4 linked regions of the Homo sapiens genome follow. The protein of the gene in region 3 purifies or fractionates together with the protein of the main gene of each other region. This does not show direct contact. Each region holds a gene or a part of one and is shown on either strand. Other genes may lie near its edges.

What was found.
Region 1: the proteins of IWS1 (region 3) and PRCC purify together in Homo sapiens (affinity purification with mass spectrometry; one large-scale study listed by BioGRID and IntAct). This does not show direct contact.
Region 2: the proteins of IWS1 (region 3) and DAB2IP purify together in Homo sapiens (affinity purification with mass spectrometry; one large-scale study listed by BioGRID and IntAct). This does not show direct contact.
Region 4: the proteins of IWS1 (region 3) and ACTR1A purify together in Homo sapiens (affinity purification with mass spectrometry; one large-scale study listed by BioGRID and IntAct). This does not show direct contact.

What each region holds. Positions count from the first base shown.
Region 1 is NC_000001.11:156,784,535-156,788,034, forward strand, and holds part of PRCC (proline-rich protein PRCC), read left to right. Parts: intron 1-2,073; coding exon 2,074-2,640; intron 2,641-3,500. UniProt on the Homo sapiens protein: May regulate cell cycle progression through interaction with MAD2L2.
Region 2 is NC_000009.12:121,782,024-121,787,579, reverse strand, and holds the end of DAB2IP (disabled homolog 2-interacting protein), read right to left. Parts: intron 5,250-5,556; coding exon 5,082-5,249; 3' UTR 4,045-5,081; coding exon of another isoform or gene 4,035-4,044; 3' UTR 2,050-4,034; downstream 1-2,049. UniProt on the Homo sapiens protein: Functions as a scaffold protein implicated in the regulation of a large spectrum of both general and specialized signaling pathways.
Region 3 is NC_000002.12:127,500,852-127,507,208, reverse strand, and holds part of IWS1 (protein IWS1 homolog), read left to right. Parts: intron 1-1,456; coding exon 1,457-2,525; intron 2,526-3,632; coding exon 3,633-3,822; intron 3,823-4,336; coding exon 4,337-4,394; intron 4,395-6,357.
Region 4 is NC_000010.11:102,477,376-102,483,724, reverse strand, and holds the end of ACTR1A (alpha-centractin), read left to right. Parts: intron 1-621; coding exon 622-714; intron 715-1,549; coding exon 1,550-1,724; intron 1,725-1,826; coding exon 1,827-1,888; intron 1,889-2,552; coding exon 2,553-2,593; intron 2,594-2,759; coding exon 2,760-2,862; 3' UTR 2,863-4,496; downstream 4,497-6,349. UniProt on the Homo sapiens protein: Part of the ACTR1A/ACTB filament around which the dynactin complex is built. The dynactin multiprotein complex activates the molecular motor dynein for ultra-processive transport along microtubules.

The sequences.
Region 1 (3,500 bases), on a different chromosome or scaffold from region 3:
CCTGAGGGTGTGCTCCGCCCTGTACCTCAGTGTGGTTCCTATGAACCGGAGCCTCTGGGCGCTTCCAGGCTGGACCAAATCTGTGAACACACACACAGCAAGAAGAGCCCAGTCTCCACATGAGCAGTTCTGTGTGGCTTGACTCAAATGTCTTATTTACTCTGGGCATTTCTTGGCTGAGAAGGCTGGAGTACACTAGTACTCTAAGACAGTGACACAGTGACCTTATTCCATTCTCCTTTTCCAATTGGCATTTCCCTTAGCTCTACAGTTAGGCCAAACGGGCCTTTTAGCATAGAGAAAGCAGAATCTGAGAGATTCTTTTGGGTAATAGGAACTCTGGATGGGCTGGGCCAGTGAGCTTACAGATCAAAAGTTAAATGCTTGACTCTGGCATTAACAAGCTAATATGCCACATCTATAGGGCTTTCCTTGGGTAGGGTAGGGGACTTTCTTCAGATTAAAAAAATACAGCATATATATATATACACTCATTTCTGGCTGACAAAACTACCTCTGTATGTATGATGGCACTAAAGATACTAAAATTACATATTTTTGTAAAAAGCAGTAATGTCTTAGATTAGGGAAATTTGCAAGCTGAGTAAGTCTGAAAAGAACTGAAGATGATCTTATAAAAACCCTTTCAGTCAGCTAATGTAGAATTCTATGGTCTTAAGTAAAAAATACCCTTAGGCCGGGCGCTGTGGCTCATGCCTGTAATCCCAGCACTTTGGGAGGCCGAGGTGGGTGGATCATAAGGTCAGGTGTTGAAGACCAGCCTGGCCAAGATGGTAAAACCCCGTCTCTACTAAAAATACAAAAATTAGCCAGGCATGCGTGGTGGTGAGCACCTATAATCCCAGCTACTCGGGAGGCTGAGGCAGAGAATTGCTTGAACCTGGGAGGCGGAGGTTGCAGTGAGCCAAGATCATGTCACTGCACTCCATCCTGGGTGATAGAGCGAGACTCCGACCAAAAAAAAAAAATACCCTTAGCACTTAAGTCCTAAGGGAGCTGCCCCACCCAAGCTGAGGCTTCAGGTTCCTATCTAAGGGGGGGAAAAAAAAGAGAAAGGAAATCCTGTTTCCTTTGCTTTGGGGATGGTGACAAGGAGAGCAATTTAAAGGGTTGGAAAAAGCTGTGTCAGGCCCCTTGCAGTCTCTGGACTCACTGCTTCCTTGTTGAACGTGCTGGGCCTCCACTCTTTCCTAGGCGTCATTAGCGCTGCTGAGGGGTCTCGCTCAGGGTTAGCTTTCTCCCTTGGTCAGGGGAAGGGACTTTTTTTTTTTTTTGAGAAGGGGTCTCACTCTGTCACCCAAGCTGGAGTACAGTGGCATGATCTCGGCTCACTGCAACCTCCGCTTCCTGGGTTCAAGCGATTCTTCTGCCTCAGCCTCCCAAGTAGCTGAGATTACAGGCACCCACCACCATGCCTGGCTAATTTTTGTATTTTTAATAGAGACGGGCCTTCAGTATGTTGGTCAGGCTGGTCTCAAACTCCTGACCTCATGATCCGCCCACCTTGGTCTCCCAAAGTGCTGGGATTACAGGCGTGAGCCACCACTGCCCAGCCGGGAAGGGACTTTTGCAACAGTATGAATGTTTCTTTTAGACAGAACCTTGTTCTTGATTTTGGGTAGCATTCCAAAGGAAGGAGAGGGTTCTTGTGTTAAGAGGTCCCTTCAGGACACGGAGAGAGGTTGAGTGATGAGCTGGAGAGACCTGGGCTTTTGGGGAGGAAGGACGATGTGAGGTTAAGAGCATCGTATTTGTTGAAGACACAGAGTTGAGGAAGGCTCGCTCTGTGGAAGAGGGCAGTGGAGCTGGGTTGGGATGGAAGAGAAGAGGAATGATACCTCACCTTGGGAGAAGCAGCCCGCAGAAAGGCCTGAAGTAGCAGGAGTCAAGCCCAGATTAGGTGGTCTGAGTGGACGGAGGTAAGGAAGAAACAAGGGCTGGTAAGATTTTAGGCTAGAGAACTTATCTGTAACTGTTGTTTTTGGTGTTGCTAGTACATAAAATCTCACTTGTCATCTTTCTTTCCTCCTATCCCACACCTGGGCTCACCAGGGATCCAGTGAGGGGACTGGTTTGTCTGCCTTGCTTCCCCAACCTAAAAACCTGACTGTGAAAGAGACTAACAGGTTGCTCCTGCCCCATGCCTTCTCCCGCAAACCCTCGGATGGCTCCCCTGATACTAAGCCCTCCAGACTGGCTTCTAAGACCAAGACTTCCTCTCTTGCCCCTGTTGTGGGCACCACAACCACCACTCCGTCGCCCTCTGCTATCAAGGCTGCTGCCAAGAGTGCTGCCCTGCAGGTGACAAAGCAGATCACGCAGGAAGAAGACGACAGTGATGAGGAAGTAGCCCCCGAAAACTTTTTCTCCCTCCCTGAAAAGGCTGAGCCACCTGGAGTTGAGCCATACCCTTACCCCATCCCCACTGTCCCTGAAGAGCTGCCTCCAGGCACGGAACCAGAGCCGGCTTTCCAGGACGATGCAGCCAATGCCCCCCTTGAATTCAAGATGGCAGCAGGTTCAAGTGGGGCCCCTTGGATGCCTAAGCCTGGGGACGACTACAGCTACAATCAGTTTTCCACATATGGCGATGCCAATGCCGCTGGTGCTTATTATCAGGTGGGTAGGAGGCACAGAGGGCAGGCGAGGGAATGTTGGAACATGGTGGTCAAGGAGAGCTTTGAGCTAGTGATACAGCCTCTGTGGTGTCACTTTGGCTAAATTAACCTTCTCTATTTATTAGGCCACAGAACATACCTTTATTCTGAACCATATTAATCTAAATTGCCCAAGTCTTAAAGTGTGACAGGGTGAACCACATAAATGACATCTTTATTCTGAAAACAATCTATTTATTTTTTATTGATCCATAATATTTGTACATATTTGTGATTGATATATATATATATATATATATATATATATATATATATATATATATATCTGTTTTTTTTTCTTCCTAACCTTTATTTTAGGTTCAGGAGGTACATGTACAGGTTTGTTACATGGGTAAATTGCATGTCACGGGTTTGGTGTACAGATTATTTTGTCACCCCAGGTGATGAGCATAGTACCTGATAGGTAGGTTTTTGGCCTTTTTTTTTTTTTTTTGGAGAAGGAATCTCACTCTGTTGCCCAGGCTGGAGTGCAGTGGCACAATCTTGGCTCAGCTGCAACCTCTGCCTCCCGAGTTCAAGTGATTCTCCTGCCTCAGCCTCCCGAGTAGCTGGGACTACAGATGTGTGCCACCCTAACATGCCCAGCTAATTTTTGTATTTGTATTTTATATTTTTTGAGACGGAGTCTTGCTCTGTTGCCCAGGCTGGAGTGCAGTGGCACGATCTTGACTCACTGCAACCTCCGCCTCCCAGGTTCAAGCAACTCTCCCACCTCAGCCTCCCAAATAGCTGGGACTACAGGCACATTCCACCATGCCCGCTAATTTAATTTTTGTATTTTTAGTAGAGACGGGGTTTCAC
Region 2 (5,556 bases), on a different chromosome or scaffold from region 3:
CCTGTACCCCTTACATTTATACAAGTATAAAATAGATGCCTATCAACATCAAATGATTTCTTTGTCCCATTCCTTGCTGTCTCCTTGAGTTCTGTGTTCCTTATGAGCATCTCCCCAGCAGAGGGATGGTGGTCCCTGAAACCCAGGGACGGGACAGCAGTGCAGAGGCAATGGGGCGGTGGAGGAGCGGGAGGTCAAAGTCAGGTTTTGATGGGTGGGGGGAGAATGGGGGTTGAGGCTGTGGAGATGGCAGGCCGCTGCAGGCAGTATACATTCAAGAAGTTTGGCTGAAGGGGAGAAAAGCAGACAGCCTGAAGCAAGTGGAGACCTAGCACTTTAAAATGCTGTAGGAAAGAGCGGGGTGGGGGCGGGGGAGGCTGGAGGTTTAGAGGCCACGGAGGCAGCAAGAGGCAGGGATGCAGGAACTGGCTAGGGGCTGCCTTGGGAAGAAACAGGTTGCCTCCTCTCCTGCCGCTGCTGAGAGCTGGGGTAGCTGTGCTGGTGGTCGGCCTGAGGAGAGGGGGTGGTGGTTGGGGGGGTCACCCAGTGTGGGAGGAGGCAGGGCTCAGAGAAGGGCCAGTTGGCTGGCTGGGAGATCTGAAAAGAGGTACGAGTTTGGATTAACTGGGGTGGAGAATGAGAGAGGAAGGCCTAGCTGAGAATGGAGATGGGAACAGACCCACAGGGCAGTCAGAACTGGGGTGTTTTTTAGTTTTCTCCTGCAGTGCTTGGTGGCCTGGAGATCACGGCTGTTGGGTGGCCCCTAGGCCGAAGTGGTCAAGGAATATTGTCAAGATGGGCTGAGGAGGGAGCCCACAGGGTTTAGGCTTGGTGGGGGAAGGCAGAGAGAACACACAGGCTGGGGAGGAAAGGGGCCGGTCTGCAGACCAGTGCTGATGTGGAGGATGAGCAGGGAAGGCTTGGCAGCTGTGCCCGCTGTGAGCAGCACGGATGACACTTTCCTAGGTCAGAGGTGATAGCAGCCCAGGGTGGGCCCCAGGAGTGGCTGGCTCAAAGGGGGTCCTGGCAGGAGGCTAGAGATGGACAGCCTGAGAAGCCAGGGTGCTGGAGGGTGGGAGGTGGGACACAAGGGCCACCGGTGAGGGTGACGGTGCAGCCCTGCTCCGGTGTGTGGCTCTGCCGTACTTGCTTCCAGCTGGCTGCAGGGGCAAGAACAGGGACAGGCCCGAGGCTTCTCTCTGGGGCCCAATCCCTAGCTGGAGCCAGAGGCACCTGTCTAGGTGACAGACCCGGAGCTCCATCTGGCTTTTTGACCAGAGGTATCCTTGCCCCCAGCAGAAGCTCGGCCCAGGCAGTATCTGGTTTCTGAGGGGTTTGGGCTAGGGCTGGGACCAGGACCTGTCCCTTGGAGCGTCTGGAGTTACTGTGCACTGAAAGACCAGATCCTGAGATGCTGAAGATGCAGGGCAGGACCCAGGGCTGCAAGGTTCTCTGTACAGGTGCAGCTGAAGGGGCTTGGGGGCTGGTTATTTCCCAACAAGGGCCTGAGTTCAGCCTTGCAGGTGGGTCTGTGTTGGGAGAGCCCGAGTCTGACTTTCAAGGTGTTGAAAGCTTGGAAATGTTTAGTCCAGCCCTGCCATGACTTGCTGGGACCTGGGCCCACCTCTTCTCCCTGGTCTCTTCCCTCCCAGAGCCAGATTTCAGTGGATGAGAAAGCGCTTAATGCAGGGCCTGGCAAGAGCCAGTGTGTGCTGCAGTGAAGGTGCTGGGACCACCCTGTCTCCCAGGAGGTGGTGGGACCAGCAGACTTTTCTTCCAAACGTATCAGAGCCAGAGAAGAGCCTTTAAGAGGACAACTGCTCTACTCCCTGGTGCAGAGACCCCTCAACCCAGAGGAGGAGGGGGCAATCCCAGATCTCCCAGTGAGCCAAGCTGGCCAGACCACCACCACTGGCTTTAGGGGTATCCCCTGCCCACGAATGCCACCAGAGTGAACCAGATGCTGGGGTCCCCTTGGTAAAGGACAGTGTCCGCTCCGGACTCAGGGTCATCCCTTAACACACAGCTGAATGGAGACACGAGTCGGGCTTAAAATAGCTAAATAAATCTTTAATATTTCTAATTGCAAATGTACAGAAATTGCACAGCCACACAGAGTCTTAGAACACCAACAGCTTCCTCTGTACATTATTACATAGTTAAAAGTCGCAGCTGGAGGGAGGAGCTCCAGCCCAAACTCCAACGTTTGCATTTTTTCCTTTTCACATACTTACAAAAGAGGGGAGCTGGGACGCGGTGTGGGAGCTGGGGGGCTTTGTGGCTGAGTGTGTAGAAAAGAGAGAGGCTGTTTCCCTGGACAGTCTGGCTCCCGCAGTCGTGCGGGGCGCAGGGGGAGGTGTACCTGGGGCAGATGCTCTGGGGGACCGGGGCGTGTGGAGCTGTAGCCTCGGTCCTCCACCCCCACTTTCTGGGCAGTCGGAAAGAGTCCTCACTGACAGGAGGTTTGGCAGTTTCCATCACCCAGAACATGGAAGTTAAGCAAAAAAGTCAGTCAGGCCTCTGTGCTAGCAGGGAGGGCGTGGCTTTCTCCAGCAGAGGCTGAGTCTCGGTGACCAGGGGGCCCCGGGGCTGTTCTTCCCCAGCAGGGACTGTCCTTCCCTCCAGGGCCTCTGGCAACCCCAGCCCTGGCTGCAGGCAGGGCCCAGCTCCCGGGAACTCAGGTTCTCTGTGGCCTGGGCAGGAGCCCCCCGTTGACTGGCCCAGTGAAGGCACCCCAGTGGCCACTACTCAGACAGCAGCTGCAAAGCCAACACACAAATGCCACAGGCAGGGAAGACACCCCCCGCAGACACCAAGCCTTTTCCTCCTGCCCAATACTGTTCTCTAGATTCAGAAATAAAATAAAACCCTTGGGAGAGCAGCAGTCCCGGCCAGCCCTCGGCAGCACCAGGACCAAAGGATATGTACAACCATTAGGTGAGATAGTTACATTACAGTCAAACACCAAGAACATTTACAAAATCGGCAGACTTGCAATTAAGATAAAAATCTGTGAAGAGTCTGTACACTTTTACAGTTTTTGCACTAGGTAAATAAGGCTCTCGGCCTGAGAGCTCACCCACCCTGCAAGGGCAGCTGGCACCGGCCACAGCGGGTAGCCTCCGAGCCCGCCTGTCCAGGCCCCGGGAGCCTCCCTGTATTGCTAGGGGGGCTCTGTCCGAGGTCACTCTACGAGGCAGCGGTGGGAGGGGGCTGGGGAGAGAAGAGCAGGGCTCACTGGGCAATGGGAGGATGAGACTGGAGCCAGGCCCTGCCTGTGTGGCCACCCTGGTCTCAGGCACGAAGGCGCATGGGTGGGGACAAGACAGAAGAGTGAGACAGGAAGGGGTGGGGGCAGGGCCTCTGCTTCCACCTCCCATCTTCCTGTGGTCTGTGATCCCTGGTGGCCCAGCCCTTCCTCCACCAGCATCTGTCTCTAGCCTAACTGAATTGTAGGTTACATCTAAAAGCCCCTTCCCAGAGCAGCCACTGTCACCTGTCCCCGAGCTCAGGGTGGACGCAGTATGGCTCTGGGCCACCCCTCCAGCACATCCACCCTTCAGGTGGGGCCTCTGTGGCACATTCCAGCTGCAGGGGCAGAGGGGTGATTCCTGCAGCTCGCCCTGCCCTGGCTCTGCTGGCAAAGGCCCCACTCCCACCCTTCTTACCCAGGGCCTTTGCTCAGAATCTGCAGGGGCTGGGAACAGACAGGGGCCGAGAGAGACCCAAGCTCCTGCTCATCTGTCTTGAAAGTGGGGGAGGGGCAGATAAGCTACAGAACAGCCTAGAGCTGAGGAAAACCGGCCCCAGCTGTGGGGTGCGCCCCTCCCCTGTATGCAGCGCCTGGGTCCTTGGCCGGGGGCCGGGAAGGGTGAGGAGGAGGCCGGCCACACACACGGGGCAGGTGCAGGCTGCTGCTGTCTTGGAGAGGGAGCAAGTCTAACATCCTCCAGGGCCGCTATTTCCCATGCAGTGCGCACGCTCAACTTAAAAGGCCCCTGTGTTCCAGCAAGCGAGCAAGCGGGCTTTTGTTTCTAATGCATACTGTGAAAGGAAAAAAAATCACAGTTATCCACCTTCTCAGGGCCTGCAGGCGTTAGAATCTTTTTTTAAACCATCACTCAGAGGAAGGATCACCTTTTCTTTCAGGGTGAGCACCAGGTGGCACTCCCTACAGGACCACTGTGCCCTGGGTGTGCTGGGCCCCAGGAGAAGGCAGATACAGTGCTCAGAGCCATCTGGCCAGATCCGCCCAGATCTCTGGCTTCTGGGAGCCCTAGAGCATCAGCCTGGGCCTGTGTGGGAGGTGTGGGAAGCTGTGGGTCCTCCCCACAGGGACAAGAGCTCACAAGAAAAAGCCATGGCCCTCACTGGGTCTATCTGGCAATACAACTAAGGCAGGGAAGAAGGTAGCAGGTGGTGCTCTGGGGACAGGTTCAGAGGGGGTGGGTGGGTAGGAATCCTCAGTTCCTCACAGCCAGGAAGGTCCCAACAGGCTGCATGCAGTGGCAGGTGCTTCGGATGGAGACAGGCAGGGGACACTGACCTCCTGCTCTGTGTCCTCCTATCTTCCTGCCTGCCAACTGATCTGCCAAGTGCCAGGTCCCACATGACAGGGCCTGGCTGCCAGGGAGTCCCGGGCCCCCCAAGGAGGCGAGGGGAAGCCACAGGTGTAGGCCCCTAGCCCTTGAATCCCCCCTCCAGGAAGCCCCCTCCCTGGCACAGGTGTGGGGGGACACATGCACTCGGCCAGATCCAGGAGGACAAGGACACACCACATTCAGGAACCAACAGACATATTTTTGGCAGGCCCCCTGCCCCATCAGGCTGTCCCCACTCCCCAGCGTGCAGTCTCTTCTGCCCGCACCCCACAGGGAGCGGCTGGTGACCTCGCCTCACGCTGCTTCAGTCTCTGGTGGCTCCCTCTGCGGCCGCCTCCTGGACAGCGGCAGGGAGGGGAGGCTCGGCCTCCTGACACCCGCGCTGGGGCTGCAACCGTGGGTGCCTCCCCAGGCCGAGACCCTGCCCTTGGCCACCATAGTCCCCCTCTCCTTGGGTAGCTTCCTCCCTCCTCAGGCAGGTTAACAATTGCTGCTGTTTCTGAACTCGCCGTTCTCAGTAATCTGCAATTTGGTGGGGTTGGTGGGGGAGATGCCGTTACGGGCTTGCATGCTGTACCTCTCTTTCAGCTGGGTCAGGGCACTCATGAGGCGGGCATTGGCGGCATCCAACGAGGCAATGCGCTTCTCCTGTGGACAATGGGGATGTGAGCGGGGGTCATGGGACAGGCTCCTTAGGGCTGTGTATACCTACGACAAGCATCGGGGAAGGGGGTGGCCTGGAGATGAGGGTGGCAGGCAGGCTCCGGGCTGTGAGCAGCTGGCAAGAGAAGGTAGGCAGAGGCCTCTGCAGCATCATGGACACAGCCTCGCTGCCTGCTTATCAGCCCAAATGCAGCAGCTCTAGTGCTGTCTATGGGCTGCCTGCGGCCCCTAGGGCAGGCACCCTTGCTCACATGTGTGTGCATGACACACCAGAGGTCACAGCTCCTGGTCT
Region 3 (6,357 bases):
GAGAACATTTTCAAGCCATTTATCTTGTCATTGACAAGAATAATCTTGTCACTTAACTGTTTCATAGCATGATGTTGGGCATATATATTATTAAAGGCTCTTTGGTCCTTGAAAATTGGTCTGTGGTAGGTTCACATAGCTTAAGTCATATATCTAACAAGAAATATTTGGCTCAGTAAATTTTTAAGAGGGTATACTCAAACACGGAAATACTTTCACTTTTTAAGCTAGAATATTATTGCCATGTTATTTAAAGTTGAGCTACCAGATGGGAGAAAAAATTCACCGGATCCTAAAATACTTGTTAGTATTTTGGCATGTTTAATTTTGTATATTTTTCTCTGCATTTTAAAGCCATAGCTATAATATGCACATATCAAGTTTGTACCCCAGGGCATGTTTTCAGAGTAATTATTTCAAGTAACATTATGTGTTGGTATAGTTAGATGAATCATGTTCTCCCTAAAACTTAAGCTTTCTTGTTTCTAGGGTTACTAGACACAGGACCGTGACTACTGTAAGCCTCAATTTTGTTATCATGAGAAGTACCATTATGAGGAGTAAATGAACTAACAGGAGAGAGCCTGTTGTGGTATTGGCTCTTAGTGGGTACTTAGGAAATGTTAACTTCTCCTTTCTTTGTTTGCTTAAATTATCTTGGGAGAAGGTGCCCATATGTTATTTGACCCTTTAAATAAAATTAAATTTTATAGTTCTTTTCCCTTAAATAATCTTAACCTTATAAAACCCAAGAATGTTCCTGTGTAAAAGAACTTGGTTACATGTTTGCTTGTATTTCTTTGAAAAATAGAGTTATTTATTTTTATTTATTTATTTTTATTTTTGACAGTCTCACTCTGTCACCCAGGCTGGAGTGCGATGGTGCAATCTCAGCTCACTGCAACCTCCGCCTCCCAGGTTCAAGTGATTCTCCTGCCTCAGCCTCCCTAGTAGCTGGGATTACAGGTGTCCACCACCACGCCCAGCTAATTTTTGTATTTTTAATAGAGACAGGGTTTCACCATGTTGGCCGGGCTGGTCTCGAACTCCTGACCTCAGGTGATCCACCACCTCGGCCTCCCAAAAGGTGTGAGCCACCTTGTCCAGCCTAGAGTTATATTTTTACAAAACAGAAGTATGTATGAGAAAATTCGCCTTTTAAAAAAGAAAAAATCTAGCTCTTCACGGTCAGTTTTCTGTAGTAATCTGAGGGCATGCTTTACAAATCTGTTTTGATGAAGGCTGGTTATATTTCCCCATTTGGGGATCCAAATAAAACCATTTCACTGATTGGCTTTCTGTGGGGGTGTTTCTATATGGGTATAGGACAAGAATTCTCCATTTAGGTGCACATAATCCTGTATTTTAAAAAAATCACAGAAAAAATTTAATGTTTTATTATTAATGGTTTTTTTTTTTTTGCACTTTCCTAATTTTTTCTCACTTTATTTTTCAGAATGAAACTAGTGATCGAGAAGATGGCCTCCCCAAAGGACATCATGTGACAGACTCTGAGAACGATGAGCCCTTAAATCTTAATGCTAGTGACTCTGAAAGTGAGGAGCTTCACAGGCAAAAGGACAGCGACTCTGAATCTGAGGAACGTGCAGAGCCTCCTGCAAGCGATTCTGAAAATGAGGATGTCAATCAGCATGGGAGCGACTCTGAGAGTGAAGAGACCAGGAAATTACCTGGTAGTGACTCTGAAAATGAGGAACTTCTTAATGGGCATGCAAGTGACTCAGAAAACGAAGATGTTGGGAAGCATCCCGCCAGTGATTCTGAGATTGAGGAGCTCCAGAAGAGTCCTGCTAGTGACTCTGAAACAGAAGATGCTCTAAAACCTCAAATCAGTGACTCTGAGAGTGAGGAACCCCCAAGGCACCAAGCCAGTGACTCCGAAAATGAGGAGCCTCCCAAACCTCGAATGAGTGATTCTGAAAGTGAGGAGCTTCCTAAACCTCAGGTCAGTGATTCAGAAAGTGAGGAACCCCCAAGGCACCAGGCCAGTGACTCTGAAAATGAGGAGCTTCCCAAACCTCGTATCAGTGACTCAGAAAGTGAGGACCCTCCGAGGCACCAGGCCAGTGACTCAGAAAATGAAGAGCTTCCCAAACCCCGAATCAGTGATTCGGAAAGTGAGGATCCCCCAAGGAACCAGGCCAGTGATTCGGAAAATGAGGAGCTACCCAAACCCCGAGTCAGTGACTCTGAGAGTGAGGGGCCTCAGAAGGGGCCTGCCAGTGACTCAGAAACTGAGGATGCGTCCAGACACAAACAGAAGCCAGAGTCAGATGATGACAGCGACAGGGAGAATAAGGGAGAGGATACAGAAATGCAGAATGACTCCTTCCATTCAGACAGCCATATGGACAGAAAAAAGTTTCACAGTTCTGATAGTGAGGAGGAAGAACACAAAAAGCAAAAAATGGACAGTGATGAAGATGAAAAAGAGGGTGAGGAGGAGAAAGTAGCGAAGAGAAAAGCTGCTGTGCTTTCTGATAGTGAAGATGAAGAGAAAGCATGTAAGGAGTTACCTTGGGCTGTTTATCAATGGCTTTATTCATTGTCTAAGCTTGTAACTGTGGAACATTGTATCCTCTTGGTATGTCAGATCTGTGTTCTGTTATTCAGCTTAATATTCTAAAATATCAGTAGGACACTCATTTCCCCTGGTTATCATTAGCTAAGCTTAATAGTAAGTTTCCTTGGAGTTCTATTAGCACATATTAATCTCTGACTGCCTCAAAGTGATAAACCACATGTCAATAGGAATATAAAATACTGTTTTTTTTTTTTAAAACTGGAAGAGGTAATGTTTCAAAGAAATACGTTTACATAAAAACCCCTAACTGTATTAATTGTTAGCTGTGGGTCTCTTTGACACTTAGTTCACTAGATCCCATCCAAACAGTAACAGCTCCCACAGGTACATCTCTTCATTTGTTAAACATTGTTGAATATTCAGATACAGGGAAGCTTTGAGAGGATTCTATTTAGAGACACCATCTCTCTCCAGAGTGTTTCAGTCTCTGCTATCTAAGACTCCATTTGCACAGATAGTATTACTTGTCTACTTTTTTATGAAACTTATCTTTTTTGGAAAAGACATATTTCATTATAACCTCACAGTTCTTATAGGAGAAGGAAAAGGTACCAGACATGCTGTCAATTTGTTAAGGGAGATGAGAAATTTCAAACTGACCAGCAATGATAGAGGAACATGGAGACTATTCCTAGAAAGAAATATGTAGTCCTTTTTAGTTCAGTTACTACTAGGCAACATAGAAAGGATGCCAGTTTTGCCCATCAATCTAGTTTTAATTTTCTCGATTTCCCAAAAGGAAAGGTGGCTGCTTTTATATTGATGATATCTTTCTTCATCTTTTGGCCAGTTTTTCTTAAGCAAAATAACAGATAATTTGTAAGATGACTCTGAATGAGCCATTTAGTTATTTTAAAAATTCTAAACCATGTGTCAGGAGGCCCTCTGATTTTATTTTATTTATTTATTTATTTATTTATTTATTTATTTATTTTTGCTGTATACTGCCATCTTAAAGCACCTGTTATGCTTAGTAATACAATGGCTGTGATAAAATAAAATTAATGATGATTTTCTTTTTCAACAGCAGCAAAGAAGAGTCGTGTTGTCTCTGATGCAGATGACTCTGACAGTGATGCTGTATCAGACAAGTCAGGCAAAAGAGAGAAGACCATAGCATCTGACAGTGAGGAAGAAGCTGGGAAAGAATTGTCTGATAAGAAAAATGAAGAGAAGGATCTGTTTGGGAGTGACAGTGAGTCAGGCAATGAAGAAGAGTAAGTGACAGTATAACATGAGTTTTCAGGGGTTCTTAATTAGGCAGTAGAGAGGGGTCTGTGTTATAATACAATATGTCCTGCCTAATTGCATGTCTTTGGGGATTTAGTATTTTAGTTCCTGAACTGAACACACTACAATGTGGGTGAATCTCAGAATTCATCTCAGAATTAACATGTTAAGTGAAAGAAAGCAAAGAGGACATATATGATTCCATTTACATGAAGTTCAGTAGGCAAAATTTATCTGTGGTGTTGGAAGTCAAGGTGGCAGTTGTTTCTAGGATGTTGATATTGGGGACCAGCTAGAAGGGGCCATGAGAGGACTTTCTGGGGAGGCTACATGAGTGTATAGGGTGCTGGTTACATGAGTGTATATATTTGTTAAAACTCATTGAACTGAACACTGAAGATCTGCACATTTTACTGTACATAAATTCTATTTTTTAAAAAATGGTTCCTATGCAAATGAGGATAAAGCAAATGAATGTTTTTACATTTGTCTACTTTCTAGAAATCTTATTGCAGACATATTTGGAGAATCTGGTGATGAAGAGGAAGAAGAATTTACAGTAAGTATAAGATGGAAATATTTCCTCCTTGATTGTGCTTTTTTTTGGTGTTTTTATGGCAGTGATACCATTATAGATGATTCTAATAAGTAGGAATAAACAATTATGATGTATTCAAGATAAAAATCTAGAAGAGGGATTCAGGAAGTAAAATGAAAGCGTATATACAAAGACATAAAAGGAAGCTAATGGGCAAAATTGAATTAAGGGGGAAGGGACACTTTGAGACAAAGAAAGTCACTTTATAATGCTAAAGGGCAAGATTCACAATAATTAGGGAACTTCCGATTTTCACAGTGGCATTCTAGGTGATTTGGACTAACCCCTCTGCCAAGCACAACTAGAAAAGCTAGACAAAAATATATAGAAATCTGCTCATTATCTAGGAACAAAGTAGCAAAGAATTACTAAGCCAAGAGAAACCTAAAGTGGTAATTCAGTGTTTAGAAGTGCTTTTTCTGTGGGGGTGTTTGCCTGTCAGGCTGAGAGGCTACTCATATTTTTGACAGCCTCAAGGCTTGGGGACAAAATTTAGAGTTCGGGGCCTATTGAGGTTAGGGGGCTTTGTAAACCCCATACCCTGGATTGAGACTTCAGAGAGCAGCACCATAAGATTTAGGGGGAAATAAAATAGCCTTTGCTCAGATTTTAGGCCATCTTTGAATCTTCTGGCAGACTAGAGAATCTCAGTCTCAGAAATAAGATTACAGTGGTTTAAGTTTTTCATATGTACTTATTATACACAAAAATAACATTAAAAGGTAACAGTAATGATGACAATAGTAATAGACTTAGGGCTCTAGATATAGGAATTTTAGATACCACCTTAAATATGTTCAGGGAGATAAGAAACAAGATTCAAAATGTCAGAGCAAACAAAAAGAAGGCAAATTTGGAAAAGAACCAAGTAGAAATTTTAGAACTATAAAAATACAGTAACTGAAATTAAAAACTCGATGTACAGGTAGGTAGGTGCAAGTAGCTGGTAGTCCCAGTTACTCGGGGGGCTGAGGCTTGGGGGTAGCTGGAGCCCAGAAGTTCGAAACCAGCCAGGGTAAAATAGTGAGGCCCTGTTTGAAAAGAAAAATGGGGTGGGAGGGGGTGGGGAAAACAGAAAACTTAGTGGATGAGTTTAGCATCAGATTAGACATACTTGAAAATAAGTGAACTGGAAGATGGCTTAGAAGGAGAGATCTGGAATGAAGCTTCAAGATACAGTATTACAGAAGAAAGGAAAAGATATAGACTATACATCGAAAAGTTTTCGCAAAAATTGGAATAATGAAAGGAGAGGGAAAGTTACATGTATAGCAGAAGCAGTATTTTAAAAGGAAATGATACCTAAACCATAGATTCTCGAAGTTGTACACATTGCAAGGAAGATAAACAAAAAGAAATCTACACCTAACTACATCGTAATAAAACTGCAAGAAACCAACGAAAATAGGAAAGTCTAAAAGCAGCCACAAGGGAAAAAAAATACGTTCAGAAAAGTAATGATTAGACTAACAGCTGACTTCACAACAGAAACAATAGAATCTACTAACTGCAAACCTAGAATTTTGTTAAATTTAGCAAAAATACTTTCCAGGAATGAAGATGAAATAAGGAGGGAATTAATTAACAGTGTACCAGCTGAAGGAAATACAGAAGGAAAGAAATGCAAGAAAGAATGATCTCAGATGGAAGGTTAGAGATGCAGGAGGGAGAAAAGAGCAACAAAAGTATGTGTATAAGTCTAAATGAGTATTGACTATACAAAATGAAATGTATTTAATGTGGAATATATATAAAATTAAAACATGACAGCAGTAAATTGGGAGCATACGTGGAATTGAAGTGCTCATAGGCCTTTGCAAATGTGTATGAATGTACATTAGTAAACTGATAAGTTAGGGTGCATGTTGTAGTCTCTAAAGTGACCACTAACAAGACTAAAATGGAATGTGTAATTTCTAAACTA
Region 4 (6,349 bases), on a different chromosome or scaffold from region 3:
TGGGATTATAGGTGCCTGCCACCACACCCCACTAATTTTTGTATTTTTAGCAGAGACATGGTTTCACCATGTTGATCAGGCTGGTCTCAAACTCCTGACCACAAGTGATCTGCCCGCCTCAGCCTCCCAAAGTGCTAGAATTGCAGCATGAGCTACCGCGCCCACTCCTGGTTTTTTTATTTTTATTTTTTTAACATCCTTGAAGAAGTCATAATACATTTAAAACATTTGTCTTTGTAAGTAAACTGAAACCTCCTGCCACCTGTGGCTATAGGGAAAACTCGAGCTGGGTAGGACCAGAACCATATGAGTGGTAGAAGGAGAAAGATGCCTGGGCCTGGGCTGAACTTAGGTTGTGGTCTCAGACCTAGGATCCAGGGGCCAAGTTTCCAAGCTTGCCCATCAGGAAGGTGGAGCGGTTAAGAACTCATATGCTAAATGCCACCCAGTGAAGGCCAACAGAGACCTCACTGCCCCTGCTTCTGGGCAGCAGCTATAGTGACCATTGGGGCCATCACAACGTTTAGACAGGTTTGTGCAGCAGCACATTCCTCCCCTGGGCCTTTGACTGGATGTGCACCAGATTTCCTGCCAGCCTGACTGTCTTGCTTGGATCTGCAGAGAGCCTGTTACCTATCCATAAACCCCCAAAAGGATGAGACGCTAGAGACAGAGAAAGCTCAGTACTACCTGCCTGATGGCAGCACCATTGAGGTAGGTGGCCTGCCTTCTTTCTTCGGTCCCCTTAGGTCCACAAAAGCTCTGGGCCCAACCAGAATTCTCCATCAGGGTCTGGAGTCTGGCAGGCCAGTCCCTTTACACCAAGCTTGTCCAACCCCTGGCCCATGGGCTGCACGTGGCCCAGGATGGCTTTCAGTAAGGCCCAACACAAAGTCGTAAACTTTCTTAAAACATTATGAGATTCTTTTGCAATTTTTTTTTTTAGCTCAGCAGCTGTCATTAGTGTTAGTGTATATTATGTGTGGCCCAAGACAATTCTTCTTCCAATGTGGCCCAGGGAAGCCAAAAGACTGGACACCCCAGCCTTACACCCTCTCTCTGGAGCAGCAGAGCTCCTGAGCATGAGTGGCCCTGTCTCCTGCAGAGGAGGCAGCCAGAACTTTGCTCCCTCCCGCTAGAGGGGAGGAAGCTCCTAAGGGATTGTCCCACATCAGTATGAGATTAGGAAGTGGGATGGTTAGTGCCATCCTTCACCACACCTGGGTGCAGTGTAGGGTGAGTTACCACTCCCTTGAACCCCCATTGCTAGGAAGACGTTTCCATGAGCAAATAAATCCATGTACTGATGCCAAAGACCTCTTGGCTGGAAAATGCCAGAGCGAGAAGGAAATATAGGAGCCTCCCCTCACTAGTTTCCAGGAGGCCTATCTTTGTTCCTTTAAGCCCTTGACATGTAGAGTCTGTCTTGAGCCTGGCCTTCATAGCCACCCAGTTACTAAGTGACGTGCAGAGGGGCGTCTTCCATTCCCACTCCCAAAGGGACCTTGGTCCCAGCTCCGACCTCTTCAGCTGGCCCTCCTACCTGCAGATTGGTCCTTCCCGATTCCGGGCCCCTGAGTTGCTCTTCAGGCCAGATTTGATTGGAGAGGAGAGTGAAGGCATCCACGAGGTCCTGGTGTTCGCCATTCAGAAGTCAGACATGGACCTGCGGCGCACGCTTTTCTCTAACATTGTCCTCTCAGGAGGCTCTACCCTGTTCAAAGGTTTGTCTCTTCTCTTGGAGCCCTTCCCCTGGAAGTGTTCAGCTCCTGCTGGCTCCAGGCACCCTGAGAATTGACTTGAAGTTCTCCTCTTTGCCCATTCAGGTTTTGGTGACAGGCTCCTGAGTGAAGTGAAGAAACTAGCTCCAAAAGATGTGAAGATCAGGGTAGGAGCATGGTGGGGCCTGGCCTGGGTGGAACTAGGCTTCCATGGACAGAGTGCCACCTGGCGTAGCTTCCCTCTAGCTTTGCCCAAGCTCTTCAAGCAGCCATGGCTCTACAAGCAGCGCCAGGTTCCCAGCCTGTACACTGACCCTGAGGTCTAGGTCAGCCACAGGGAGGCTGAGTTCTCATTCTCCCTCTTCACACCAAAGGCAGGCAGTTCTAATACCCAGATGAGGCAGGGTACTAGGTAGAGGGCCCCCTGCGTGATCTTTCAGGGAAACTATAATCTTAAGAGGAGACTGACTTACTGTTGCTGTGCCCCCTGCCCAGGTGGCTCCCCTGTCACACAGTCTGACACCTTAGTGATAGGTGAAGGAGGTTGGCTGTCTGAGGAGAGCGGGGATCCTAAAGGAAGGAGTACAGTTCTTGCCATGGAGTCTGCTTCTCCCTGCCCCCCCCAATAGTCCCAGCTTCCCTGGGACCTGTGGGGACTGGAAACCTGCTTCCCCAGATGAGTGGCAGGCTGGCCACAGTGCCCTCCAGAGAGGCCAGAGCTTCAGGCTTGTGTAAAATGTATCCCCTGCCATGGGCAGAAAGAGGAGCATTGTAGGGAAAGGGAGCGGGAGGGCTGGAAGTCTCAGATTCCTCTTTCCCCCACCTTTGCAGATATCTGCACCTCAGGAGAGACTGTATTCCACGTGGATTGGGTGAGTAGCTCTTCCAGGAGTAAGAACAGAACAGGAAGTGATGGCACTGATAACCCCTCAGCACCCTCTAAAGAAAAGCCTGATTTGGTTTGGCCCCAGGGGACTGGTAGGCTCCACACACAGCCACTTCTCTCTCACACAGTTCCTCTGGGTTTCCTCCCTCCAGGGGCTCCATCCTTGCCTCCCTGGACACCTTTAAGAAGATGTGGGTCTCCAAAAAGGAATATGAGGAAGACGGTGCCCGATCCATCCACAGAAAAACCTTCTAATGTCGGGACATCATCTTCACCTCTCTCTGAAGTTAACTCCACTTTAAAACTCGCTTTCTTGAGTCGGAGTGTTTGCGAGGAACTGCCTGTGTGTGAGTGCGTGTGTGGATATGAGTGTGTGTGCACATGCGAGTGCCGTGTGGCCCTGGGACCCTGGGCCCAGAAAGGACGATGAACTACCTGCAGTGGTGATGGCCTGAGGCCTGGGGTTGACCACTAACTGGCTCCTGACAGGGAAGAGCGCTGGCAGAGGCTGTGCTCCCTCCTCAGGTGGCCTCTGGCTGGCTGTGGGGGACTCCGTTTACTACCACAGGGAGACAGAGGGAGGTAAGCCATCCCCCGGGAGACCTTGCTGCTGACCATCCTAGGCTGGGCTGGCCCCACCCTCACCCCCACCCCCAGGGTGCCCTGAGGCCCCAGGCAGCTGCTGCCTCCACTATCGATGCCTCCTGACTGCACACTGAGGACTGGGACTGGGGTTGAGTTCTGTCTGGTTTTGTTGCCATTTTGGTTTGGGAGGCTGGAAAAGCACCCCAAGAGCTATTACAGAGACTGGAGTCAGGAGAGAGCAGGAGGCCCTCATGTTCACCAGGGAACAGGACCACACCGGCCACTGGAGGAGGGCAGGAGCAGTCCTCACTCTGAATGGCTGCAGAGTTAATGTTCCCAGCCCAGTCCCCTTTCGGGGGCCTTGGGAGAGTTTAAGGCACCTGCTGGTTCCAGGACCTCGCTTTCCATCTGTTCTTGTTGCAATGCCATCTTCAAACCGTTTTATTTATTGAAGTGTTTGTTCAGTTAGGGGCTGGAGAGAGGGAGCTTGCTGCCTCCTGCCTTGCTACACTAATGTTTACAGCACCTAAGCTTAGCCTCCAGGGCCCCACCTCTCCCAGCTGATGGTGAGCTGACAGTGTCCACAGGTTCCAGGACCATTTGAGATTGGAAGCTACACTCAAAGACACTCCCACCAGGCTCTTTCTCCCTTTTCCTCTTGCTCACTGCCCTGGAATCAACAGGCTGGTTGCTGGTTAGATTTTCTGAAACAGGAGGTAAAATTTTTCTTTGGCAGAGGCCCCTAAGCAAGGGAGGGGTGTTGGAGAGCCAGTGCCCTTAAGACTGGAGAAAGCTGCAATTTACCAAGTTGCCTTTTGCCACTGTAGCTGACCAGGGGACTAGGTTGTAGAGGTGGGAAGGCCCCCTCTGGGCTGATCTTGTGCCATTCTTGACCTTGGACCTGCTTGGTTAAGGAGGGAGTGGGCCAGACCAGAGTGCCAGGAGCTAATGGAGCCAGGCCTGACTCCTAGGAGTGGTCCAAAGGCCTTCAGCCTAGATGGTGCAAAGCTGGGGCCAGCCTGTCTTCACCGGCACCCTCACCTGTGACACCAAGACCCACCCCAATCCCAGACTTCACACAGTATTCTCCCCCACGCCGTCCTATGACCAAAGGCCCCTGCCAGGTGTGGGCCACAGCAGCAGGTATGTGTGAAAGCAACGTAGCGCCCCGCGGACTGCAGTGCGCTTAACCAACTCACCTCCCTTCTCTTAGCCCAAGCCTGTCCCTCGCACAGCCTCGCACAAACCACATTGCCTGGTGGGGCCCAGTGTACTGAAATAAAGTCGTTCCGATAGACACGTCAGCTGGGCCTCTATCTGTCTGTCACCAGGGCCAAGTGGAAAGAGGAAGAGCAGCAGGCACTGAATCTGAGGTGGTGACTGGGCCTGATCCATCCTCTAGAGGGCATCATTGCACCAGCCAGCCTTGTCCAGAGCATAGCCCAAGTCCCAGCCTGTCAGGTGGATGCAGAGAAAAGGGTGATCACACCACAGCCTAAGTTCAAGAACAGAAGGTCCCACTCCTGTGTACACTGTAGCCCATGGGTGAGACTCAACTCCAGATGACAGGAGCAGCTCTCAACATCCCTGAAATCAAAGATTCTCAAAACTGTCAAGTGAATAAGAAGGCCAGGAGCTTGGCCGGGCACGGTGGCTCACGCCACACCTGTAATCCCAGCACTTTGGGAGGCCAAGGCAAGTGCATCATAAGGTCAGGAGTTCAAGACCAGCCTGGCCAAGATGGTGAGATCCCGTCTCTACTAAAAACTACAAAAATTAGCCGGGCGTGGTGGCAGGCGCCTGTAATCCCAGCTACTCAGGAGGCTGACGCAGGAGAATCGCTTGAACCCGGGCAGTAGAGGTTGCAGTGAGCTGAGATCGCACCAGCCTGGGCGACAGAGTAAGACTCTGTCTCAAAAAAAAAAAAAAAAAAAAGAAGAAGGCCAGGAGCTTATTACAGTGCAGTTTCCAGGGCCCATACTCAGATATCCTGATTAATCACTTCTCCGTTTAAAACCTGCACTTGGGAGGAAAATTGCCAGGTCTTTGCCAAATGGTAACTATTTAATCTTCCCAATAACCTTACAAAATATACGTGCTTTTGTTGTCCATTTTACAGATAAGGATTTGGAGCCACAGAAAGATTAAGCAATTTTCCAAAGTTCTGCCTTTTTTTTTTTTTTTTTTTTTTTTTGAGATCATGTCTCACTTTGTCACCAGGCTAGAGTACAGAGGCACAATCTCAATCTCCGCTCACTGCAACCTCTGCCTCCTGGGTTCAAGCAATTCTCCTGCCTCAGCCTCCCAAGTATCTGGGATTACAGGTGCCTGCCACTGTGCCCAGCTAATTTTCATATTTTTAATAAAGATGGGGTTTGACCATGTTGGCCAAGCTAGTCTCGAACTTCTGACCTCAGGTGATCTGCCTGCCTCGGCCTCCCAAAGTGCTGGGATTACAGGTGTGAGCCACCGTGCCCAGCGCTGGCCTTTCTTAATCCCGAATGTAAACCCAGGCCATAGAACCTACAGCCTACATTTTTAATCACCATGCAGCCTGTAAAAAACCATTGGCCTAGAGCAGTGGTTCCCAATTGGAACCAATTTTGCCTCCCAGGACACATCTGGCAATGCCTGGAGATGTATTTGTTTGTCGCAACTGGTGTGTGTGTGGGGTGGGGTGGGGGGTGCTAAATGTCTACAACAGAGAACAATCTGGCCCCAAATATCTCCAGTGCTAGTGCCAAGGTTGAGAAATGGTGGCTGAGAGTCATGGTTTTCAGTGCCAGCTGCATGATAAAATCACCTACAGAGATGTTCAAAATCCTACTGCCCAGGCCATACCCCAGACACATTAAGTCAGAATCCCAAGGAATGGAACTGAGATGTCAGTATTTTTTAAGTTCCCCAGGGGACCCCAAGGCTGAGAACCTCGGGCCTAAAAGAGGCTCCTCTCTCTTTGACTACCATGTCCAGCAGTGATACATGGGAAATGCACTGAGGCCTAATGGTCATTTTGGGCCCGAGTGCCTATGCAGTTACCAATCTATGTTTTTCTCCCTGGCATCTTGGTAACCCACCAAGGTGGGTTTTTTTTTTCTTTGAGATGGAGTCTCATTCTGTCGCCCAGGTTGGAGTGCATGCAGTGGCGCGATCAATG